2 separate regions of the Homo sapiens genome follow, and region 1 is linked to region 2. The links come from fine-mapping of genetic effects on gene expression. A gene starts in region 2. The other region holds a variant in brackets. All regions are shown on one strand. Distances are from middle to middle. Region 1 overlaps DNAH6 (dynein axonemal heavy chain 6). Region 2 holds the start of DNAH6 (dynein axonemal heavy chain 6).

Region 1 (5,000 bases), 160 kb before region 2:
ATATGCAACTTTGGGAGGCTGAGGCAGGCGGATCACTTGAGTCCAGGAGTTCAAGACCAGGTTGGGCAACACGACGAAACCCAGTCCCTACTAAAAATTCAAAAAATTAGCCAGGCATGGTGGCATGCGCCTGTGGTCCCAGCTACTCGGGGGGCTGAGGTGGGAGGATTGCTTGAGCCTGGGAGGTTGAGGCTGTAGTGAGCCTCTATTGTGCCAGTGCAGTCCAGCCTCAGTGACAGAATGAGACCCTACCTCAAAATAAAATAAAACAAAATTGCAATATAAATCACAGTAAGTTTTTTGAAGGAAAGGGATATAATGTTGAGGCAATGCTTGTTGGGGGAACCTAACTTAGTCTGTGAGTCAGAGAAGATTTGGCCAAGGAAGTGGCACTTGCAGTGGAGAGCTGGAAGGTGATAGTAGCAGAAGACAAGGCCATAGGGGTGAAGGAAGCAGGTGCATTTCTGGCAAAGGGAAGAGTGTGTGCCAATTCCTTTGGTAGGAAGAAGAATCTGAAGACCAAGAGGAAGGCACTCTTGATCCCAGATCTAAAGCACCAAGGCTTGAGGTGGACAAGTCCCTGTCTCTACGTGAATCAGTTCCAATAAACAACGGCTTACTATATACAAGGTATTAAGCTTAGCAGGGGCCATAAAAATGAGGGAGATGGAGGTCAGGAGCTCAGAGTCTAACATGAAGGAATGCAACACAAGATGAGCACATCAACAGCTCTGATTCAAGAAAGAATGTGAAGGCCATAAAGACACACAGTGCTCCATGAGGGTGAAAGAGGAGCTCACACTGGAAATGGGGGTTTAAGGAAAGGCCCTGTGAGCAAGGCTATTTGGAGATGGGCCTTGAAGGAGTAGGAAGATTATAAGGGAAGAGCTGGAGAGCAGGGCCCTTCCAGGTAGAGGACACCATCACAAAGGCATGCCGTGGGGGATATGGGTGCCTTCAGAAGACAGCAAGCCTTATGCCTCAGTGGGACTGTGGGGCATGTGCAGGGAGCAGCAAAAGACCCTCGGATCAGAGCAGCCATTCACAGCCATATGTGGGAGCCTCAGAGTGCCAGGGAGAGGCATTTCCATGTGATTTGTTTGGCAGAGAGGAGCCACTGAGCGCTGGCCTGGTGGGAGGTTTGGCAGTCATTCCCTTCCCACCCTCATCCCCATGGCACTGAGTCAGGGGAATTCTAAACCTGCAAAGGGCACGTGATATTCTCTCCTCACTGCGTTGTTGGGAAGATAAAGTTAGATAAACTTATTTGGAAAGTAAAAAGCCTTATATGCAAAAGACTGCTTTGTTTATAAAGATAAAGTTCCCAGGAACTGAATATGCGTTCATCTTGCATCCGGGGCTCCCTGTGTTGGTGACCAAGGCCCCTTTCTCGAGACCTACTACCTGTGACCCCATCAGTTTTCACCTCTGCACAGCCTGACCCTCTCTTCAGTCTCCATTTATCCCTCTGCCTCTTACACTCATCTTATTTTTTCACTTCAAAGAATGTTTATGCCTTGTTTAAGCTCTCATTTTGATAGACAGAAAGTGCTCTACCTGGATTTCCCAGGGAACTGGAGCTTAGCAATGGGGGCAGGGAGGAATCTTAGCTGAAATCACATATTCAGCAGCCAAATGGCCTGGGCTCTAATCCCAGTTTTGCCACTTGCCAGTAGTGTGACCTTGGACCAGTCACATTACTCCATACTCTTGGTCTATTTCTTGATCTATAAAACAGGGCTGATAGCATTATCCATCTTGTAGGGATGTTGGGTGCTAGTAGGTGGGAAATCCTTAGAATAGTGCCTGGTACAATTATTTGTTTTTATTGTGAGCAAAACGAAACATGCCCCCCGCCCTTTTCTTGTCAAGGGTGTTGGTTTCTCCAGAACAGAAATTTTCTCCAGAACAGAAATGGGACAGTTAACCTAGGTTCCCCCTTCTCCCTCTTGACTCTATACCCCACCTGTGATGGTTAATACTGAATATCAACTTGATTGGATTGAAGGATACAAAGTATTGATCCTGGGTGTGTCTGTGAGAGTGTTGCCAAAGGAAACTAACTTTTGAGTCAGTGGGCTGAGAAAGGCAGAATCACCCTTAACCAACCCTTAATTGTGGGCACAATCTAATCAGCTGCCCATGCAGCTAGACTATAAGGAGGCAGAAAAGTGTGAAAAGAGAGTGGCCTAGCCTTCCAGACTACATCTTCCTCCCAGCCTACATCTTTCTCCCATGCTGGATGCTTCCTGCCCTTGAACATCGGACTCCAAGTTCTCCAGTTTTGGAGGTTGGACTGGCTGTCCTTGCTCCTCAGCCTGCAGACAGCCTATTGTGGGACGTCGGGATCATGTGAGTTAATACTTAATAAACTCCCTTTTATGTATATATGTCTATCCCATTAGTTCTGTCCCTCTAGAGAACCCTGACTAACACACCACCAGTCCTGCTGATCTGCCTTCTGGCTTCTAAACCTTTCTGACCACACACATTAGCACAGGAGGCTCGACCCTCATCTCTTGTCCTCTAGGCTACTGCAGTTGCCTCTGGTCTTGCCTCCTCGTTAGCTCATCCCTCCCCTGCAGCCAAGGGGATCTTTCCATAACATTTCCTTCAGCAGCTCCTCAGCACTTACAGGATAAATCCAGATTCCTC[CT/T]CATGGGCCCACGGCACCATGGGATGTGACCTCTGCCTCTCCTGTTGGTTTGGTGCTCATAATTCACACCACCGTAGTATTTTACATTCCCTGCTTCTGGGGTGTAAAACGCTCCCTTTCCCTGCTTTGGCATGCATGCCTTCAGAATCCATCACTTCTGGGAGGCTTCTCCCATCCTCAACCCAGCCCCACCCCTGAATCCCTCCTGTCTCTCCCCTCTCACCACTCTGCATTAGAAATGTCTGTCCACCCTCTGAAGCTCTCTGGGAGGCAGGGACTGTTTCACTTGTTCATGGATCTCCTGAACCAAGCATGGCAAAAACTCAATATAGACTGAATACACTGAATTACATGGAGGAAAAACTGAGGCCACATGTTATGGACTGAATTGTGTCCCCTGTCCCCAAATCATATGTTGAAGTCCTAACTCAGGGTCTCAGAATGTGACTGTATTTGGAGATAGTCCAAATAAAGAGGAGATAAGCTAAAATGAGGCCATTAGGGTAAGCCCTAATCCAGTATGACAGGTGTCCTTATAAGAAGAGGTTTGGACACAGACAGACACAGAGAGAAGCCCATGTAAAGACATAAGGAAAGAGTGTTCAGAAGAAACCAATCCTGCAGACACCTTGTTCTTAGACGTCTAGTCTTCAGAATTATGAGAAAATAAATTTCTGTTGTGTAAGCCACCCCATCTGTGGTACTTTGTTATGGTAGTCTCACAAACTATACATCATATTTCCTTGTCATTTAAATTTAAGCACACCAAGTAATTTAAAAGCTAAAGTAACCTGTATTTCTTTCCAAAACAGTTTGTTTCTGTCATAAAATCCCCCAAAATCTTGATACTGCCGAAGTAATTCAATCGGAGGCTGAGAGCCATAGCGATCCAGTCTGGGCATGTTTAAATCATCAACAAAAATCACAATTCGTTTGTTTCCCGGTGCTCCTAGGGAAATAAAATGAATTTAATTTAAGAATTATGATTTTCCCTTAGAAAATGTAAGACAAAGCTAGGGTATGACTTTGGACTCAATGACATCCTACAGGTCATAAAGAGCTCAGTTCTGAGTCCTGCCTGGAGGAGGAGAGACTTCCTTCTGGCCCCACCCAGGCCCCTGCAGGAAGATGTGGTCCTGGTCAAGACGTCCACGTTGTCATGCCAGGTGGCCCCTTATCCTCACTGTCAGGGCACAAGATGGTGGCCTCTCTCCAGCAAGGAGTGAACCTTTCTCTGTCTCAGCCACACTCACTGCCCTCAGCAACCATGTGGCTTAGGCATGAATGAGGAACATCATTTTCTTTCCATAGTAGGAAGAGGAAGAATGCCAAAGTTTCCTTTCATAAATGTCATCACAGTACCCTCACAGGGAAACCAGATTAGATATTCAAAAGCATCCTGATCACATCAAAGGGAAATCCAGTGCAGTGGGGCTGCACAATGCCACATTTAAATGAATATACACACTCATTAGAAAAAGGAATGAGTGATAGCAGAGGAAAGAGAAACCCGATGGGCAAATAGCCATGTCCTTGTGGTTGGGATTACTACAGGAGGTGATTCCAAGGCAAACTGAGTGCTCCACTCCATCCTGTGGCCCCCTGGAAGCCAAGCAGCAGGAAGGGGTGGGGGGTAAGGAAGGGGTCTAAGATAAACCTTTGTAAGAATTTGGGGCCCCCACCAGAAAATAGACTGGCATCTGTTGCCCTTTGCCTACCTAAGCAGGAGAGAGGGGACAGAGACAGAAGGCAGTGAAGCAGCTGGCAGCACCATTGTTTGGCATGACAGGGCCTGCTGGATGGTGGGCAATGTGGGAGGCAGCCAAGCCTGAGCCCTGGCTGGTGCACCACCCCAGAGACTGTGGACTGAGCAAGTGGGGCCCCAGCTGCAAGAGGGTGCAGATGGACTGCTGGAGAGTGAGGGCTGAGGTCCTGACTCCCACCCTCAGGGAAACTTCCAGTGATAAGGTCAATGCCTGGCTTGCAAACAGCTCTTTTGGGAGTTGCTTACAAGAGCCCACTCCTGAAAACCTGCCTCACAGACAGCATAGACACCACTCAGTGCCAGCTAGAGAAGCAGGGACCAGCCACAGAGAGGCCCATCTGAACACTGGCTAGGGAGAAGAAACTTGTCCTTTCCTTCTTCTCCTCCCATTCCCTGCATACTCCAGCCTCCTACAGGGAGGGTGGGGAGGAGTGAAGAGCATCCCATGACCCCTTCACCTCCCATACGTACCTGGAGCCACAAACCTGGCTTAGGACAGATGAGAGGAGGAACTTTGAATTGGGTATTGGATTGAGGCTTAGACTGGCCCAGACTCCAAATGTCTGAAGGTGACCAGAA
Region 2 (5,468 bases):
GCATAAATGGTTTCTAAAAATTAAGTATTTTCAACATGCACACAATTTTTTAAATACAAAGGCATGTACTTTGAAAATAATAAAACTATATAACTAAATATAACATTTGCTAAACTTCTCAGTGTTAAATGGTACCCTAATATCTAAAAGTGCCTAATAGCATACATAGTTAAGTATCTGTATTGTACATAATCCTAGAGAGGACTTATCTGCCTGAAAACTTTGTTCACCACTGTATCCTTCAACTTAAACAGTGCCTAGAACTTAATATTTGTTTAATAAATATTTACCGTATTTACAACTACATAAGCAGTTATTATCTTTTAGCTTTTCATTCCTTCTTTGTCAGTTCAGAGTCTGGACATGACTTCTATCCTCCAAAGCAATTTTACAACTTCCTCTGTGGCTACAGAGGCTAAAACAATGGTTTTTGAACTTACCAAAGGCTCTAGTTTTATAGGCTGCTGTCGTTTTCTTGTCTTCTCCTGAGCTTTTGTAATGTGCCTAAACGTTAGGATTTGTGTATCAGATTCATTTTCTGTGGATGTCACATAACTCACTCTTTGTTTGGCTTTTATATTATTCAGTCTTGAAAGTGCAGAATTTTCGGCATACTCTTCAATATTTGTCAGGTCAAATTCACTATCTGTGGCCCGAAAAGTCATCCTTACTCCTGAAAAGAATAGGTGAGGAAAAAGAAAATGAAAAGTAGATCAAAAGGATTGGGGAAGGAGGCTACTGGAGAGGGACTTAAGGACTAGGAAGAGTTGAATTCGCTCACTTCCCTCAAATAAAACCCATCAAAGTTACCCCAGTCTTCCCGAACTGAGGACTTGAACCAAAGGAATAAAAAATTAGAAACTGTGCCTAGGCTTCAAGAACCCCTGTAGCTAGGGTGGAACCCAGGAATTTGCATTTCTTGCAAGTTCTTGGCGGATGCTGCTGCTGCTGCTCATCTGGAGACCACACTGGTCTAGATTTGGAAGGACAAAAGGAAATGTAATTAGTATTGAGATCAATGTTTCTCATCTCCTGCGGAACTTGTTCAAAATGCAGCTAATTCTAGTACACGCAGTCTGAAAAATACAGTATAGGTACTCAAGAAGAAACAAAGGGAAAAAAAAGAATTGAGGGCTAATTTCTTACACAGTGCTTCTGGAGCTTTAACGTGCAGGACAATCACTTGCAGAGCTTGTTAAAATGAAGGTTCTGATTCATACACTTTGAGTAGCAAGGTCCTAAAACACTAGAAATATGAGCCTTTTGTAATGGTCTTGCACTCTGCACCACCACGCACACTTTCACCCCATTAGATGAGTGGAGATACTTCGAAACACCTTCCAAAATAGGGTTAGCACAAGAGGTCTTGAATCAGGTGTCGGCAGACCTAGGTTTTATATAGATCAGTGCTGGCCAATAGAAATATGAGAGCTTTGTATGCAATTTTAATTTTCAAGCAATAGCATTTTTAAAAAAGAAATAGGTGAGATTAATTTTAATAATATGTTTTATTTACCATATACAAAACATAATCATTTGAACACACAGTATAAAAATTATAGTGATATCTTATGTTGTCTTTTGGTACCACGCCTTCAAAATCCAGTGTGCTTTTTACATATGAGCACATTGCAATTCAGACTAGCCACACGAGGTCTAAAGATTACCGTATTTAACAGCGCAGGTCCAGATTTGACCACTCAGCGTGAGATCTTGGACAAGTCTTTTGATATCGCTATTGCTCACTTTCCACCCCTCTAAAATGATGGGCGGATAGCAGACAATCACTGAAATGCCTTTCCATTGATTTTCTCTGCCTCTTTGAGCCTTTATGTTCTCCGAAAGTCAGACTTTGTTTCTGGCCCAGAAATCGGAGCCCAGGCCCGAGGGTCGGTTCCCAGGACTCACCAAGTCAAAATACAGCAACCACCGCCGAGGGTCTCCAGAGAGAGCAATGCCTGGTCGGGAGTAGAAAGTACTCGGTAGCGCGGAATGTTTCCTGTTGCTGCGTAGCAACCAGCTGGCCTCTACGGAAGCACTGCGCCACTGAGTAACACGTCGCCAGGCAACGCCTCAACCAGCCACAGCTTTCGGTCCAGGAGCGCGCCAGGCAATCGAGCCAATTAGTGTCTCCGAAACATTTCCTACTTCGCTGATTGTTGGAGAAGCCGCACAGCCTGGTTCCTCCTCTGCGCTGGGAATTGAGTACTGTGCCAGGAGGTGTAGGCAGAGCAGCCAAAGGAGGTGGTTAATTCTGTTTGCTTCGTTGCTTATCGACCACTCACACCCATCTCAACCTCTTACAGGAATTTCTTTTCTGTTTTCCTTCAAGAGGCGTAAGACTGACTTGACGTTCACTTTAATAGAAATTTATCCGAAAGAGTCGAGAATTTCAGGAGAGGAATGTGGGTTGTGTAGACAAATGAGGTCCCACTCTCCAAGGAAGCAACCACTCTGCATCCCTGCCCTACCCGCCAACCTCCTCCCGAGTGTCTTAAGGCTCAAGAAATGTGGCCTCCTCTTCCCTTAAACTCCACTGTGGCCTTCCAACTAATGTCCTTTTCCACTTGGAAGGTAACCTAGGTGTCAGGCATAGGATGAGCCCGTATTACTTGGTTCCCGTGCCCCTTCTACCAAAGCAGACCCTGGATCTTATTCTGGCGTTTAATCTCACTTAAGTTCCCAAGTGACTGTTGCTAATTTTGTATGGAGCGACCCCATCGAAGGCCAGGGCCTGTTGCTTACTCGGGATGCCTTATCCCAGTTACTGATCAGGGGAAGAAATCCTTTCACCTGTCTTGATGAATCCTTACACCACATGGAGGAGCTCTGGTTTTCAACCTTGTCTCCAAAATGACATAATCATCATTTTCTTTTGCTCTTTTCGGTTGCTCTTTGTTACCTTGATATTTGTTTCTTGCTCTATGTGAAGTTCTTTACATTATTGTACTCACAGCCTGCATCTTCTCAATCTTAACATATTCAGTTATGTATTTGATATGGTAGTATGATTCTCTAAATCACAGATAGAGCTAAAATGGAGATTACAGGTCACATAGTCCAACTCCCCTATTTGATTTGTAAGGGAACTGAAGCCCAGAGAAAGCAAGTGCTTTACTCCAGGTCAGGCAGCTAGTTGTGCCACAGACAAAACTAGAATGCAGATCTCCCAATCCCTAATGAGAAACTGGAAACAGCAAGAGAGTAAAGTCAGTTTAGAAAAAATTTTAAAAATTCTGAAAAACTTCAAATGTAGACAAAATAAAGATTAATTCCCCAGAGATGAAAAATACACACAAAACTAGTCAGCTAGTAAAATGCAATCATTGATATAAACTAATAATGGAAAAAGAAATTCAAAGCCAACTCAGTACATCGAAGCATAAAGTTATAATAACAAGCAATGTTAGACACATCCTCAGAATAGATTTCATTTCAGATGTGCAGTGAAAATTTTAATCTGTTCCCTTCAAAGTTTATGCAATGGAGACAAATCTATTGCTCCTCAATCCTAGACTCCCTTTTTTAGATTAAGGTGGATTGTACACAACTGTTACCATGTGCAGCTGAAAGCATTCCAAAAGCTAAGAAGTGTGTGTGTGTGTGTGTGTGTGTGTGTGTGTGACTGTGGTGAAGTGGGGGTGGGAGGATTGGAAGACACAGACATAGTTTTACAAAGATATTACTATATGAAACACTACTCATCAAATCTCTCCAAGCTTATTTTTTAATGTGGCAAGATGTTATCTTCATTATCAACTGACCACTTACTAAATCAATGTAGCAGCTTTGTGTATAGCCTGCTATTTTTATAGTTCTTATAGATAATTGTTACATTTCATTGGTTGTTTCTTATGTGCCAAGTACTGTGCTTTATATTTCCCATTCATTTTCTTAAGTACTGCTAACAAACATGAAATTCCCATTTCACAGCTAAAGAAGTAGGTTACAAATGGTTACTCACAAGTTCACATCTTTAATAGTAAAAGGAAATGCAGTTAAAATTTTTTTAGCATTAGGTTAAGATTTATATACCAGGCCATTTGTGATGGGTGCTATTCCACTAATCATTGCAATAACCTTATGTTAGAGGTATTATTATACCTATTCCACAGATAGGAAATTGAGGCTTAAAGAGGTTGTGTGACTTTCCCAAGTCACTTCAGAGGTAGTAAGTGGCAGAGCTGAGATACAAATCCAGATCCATCAACTTAAATTTCTATATGAATTTGAGCCCAAGATTATTGAATCATAGAATTCTGCTTCTGGATATATAGTGGAGTATAGCAGGGCTCACAGAAATAAGGGAATCCTCAAGTGTCAAAATAATAATCAGATGAAACCAGAGCAATAAATAACATGGAAGCTGTGGGTGCTGTGGGTACAAATGCCTATACAAAGAACATATAGCTTCAGGGATTAATGCTGAGGAGAAATGGAAGACTAGGCCTTGCTTGAGTCTACACAAAATGGAAGAGCAAACTACAGTTGCCACACACATCTGAGACTGTTGGAAGAATTATCCCCTCAGTAATAGGTTGGACTAGGAAAAAACTGGCAGTGACAAAAACCTACAGGAAAACCAGCATATTTCTACCTGTAGATCCAGGTGGGAAAAAATTGTTAAAAATATAATAGTCTCCCCCAGGAATTTAGGAGTATAGACAAAACTAGTTCTGGGTTTTTCATTTACACTACCTATGTGGTCTGGGGAAAAAAATGCAAGCTACTAGGAAATACCCATGAAGAGAAAGGCATCATCAACTCTGAGTCCTTAGAATTCTCACAAGTTAGTTTCAGCCAAATATAAATTTACAATTAAAAAAAACCCAAGCATACAAGAAAACAAGCCACTCCAAACAAGAGTTAGCAGAATAAACAAGACTTAAAAGGCAAACACATTATATATTAGAACTCTTAAATATAGAATACATAAAATATTTATGAAATGTTCAAGGATAATGACAATATAAAATTTAAAAGTAATTATGGGAATAACATTAGCAAAAATGGTAGAGTAAGGAACTCTAAAAGTCCATCCTTCCACAAAAGTTGTAAGACTTCAGTGACTTTAGAGATTTCAGTAACCACATGTGACAAAGCATACAGTCTTTAAATAATAGTTTACAAAAGTCAGCAACAAACAAATACAACCTACAACAGGCAGAAACAACAAATTCTTAGAAGGCAGGAGAATCTGATTTCCCGAGTTACCATATTATAATATTCAACATATCCAATATCCAATTTTCAACCAAAAGTATGAGACATGCAAACAAAGAAAGTATGGTCCACTTACAGGAAGAAAAACTTAATTAATTATAAATTAAGATGTTAATTGTAATCACAGGGCAACCACTAAGAAAATAACTAAAAAAAAATAGATAAAAAGTGAACCAAAATGGTACACTTAAAAAAATCTACCTCATACAAAAGAAGGCAATAGTGAAAGAATTGAAAAATAACAT

The links. PIP is the estimated chance that this variant, and not a neighbour inherited with it, causes the effect.
Region 1: its variant is the best candidate, but not a certain one, in a credible set for the expression of DNAH6 in NK cells (Schmiedel 2018, PIP 0.64).

The regions. Positions count from the first base shown.
Region 1 is chr2:84,670,932-84,675,931 of GRCh38, reverse strand. It overlaps DNAH6 (dynein axonemal heavy chain 6), which reads right to left. Exons shown (of 77, transcript NM_001370.2): 40 at 3,448-3,605. Among named protein-coding and RNA genes, the nearest start is that of DNAH6, 160 kb to the right of the region's middle. The variant CT/T (reference allele first, on the strand shown) is at 2,656.
Region 2 is chr2:84,513,024-84,518,491 of GRCh38, reverse strand. It overlaps DNAH6 (dynein axonemal heavy chain 6), which reads right to left and starts at 1,994. Exons shown (of 77, transcript NM_001370.2): 1 at 1,909-1,994; 2 at 441-673. The coding sequence starts at 665.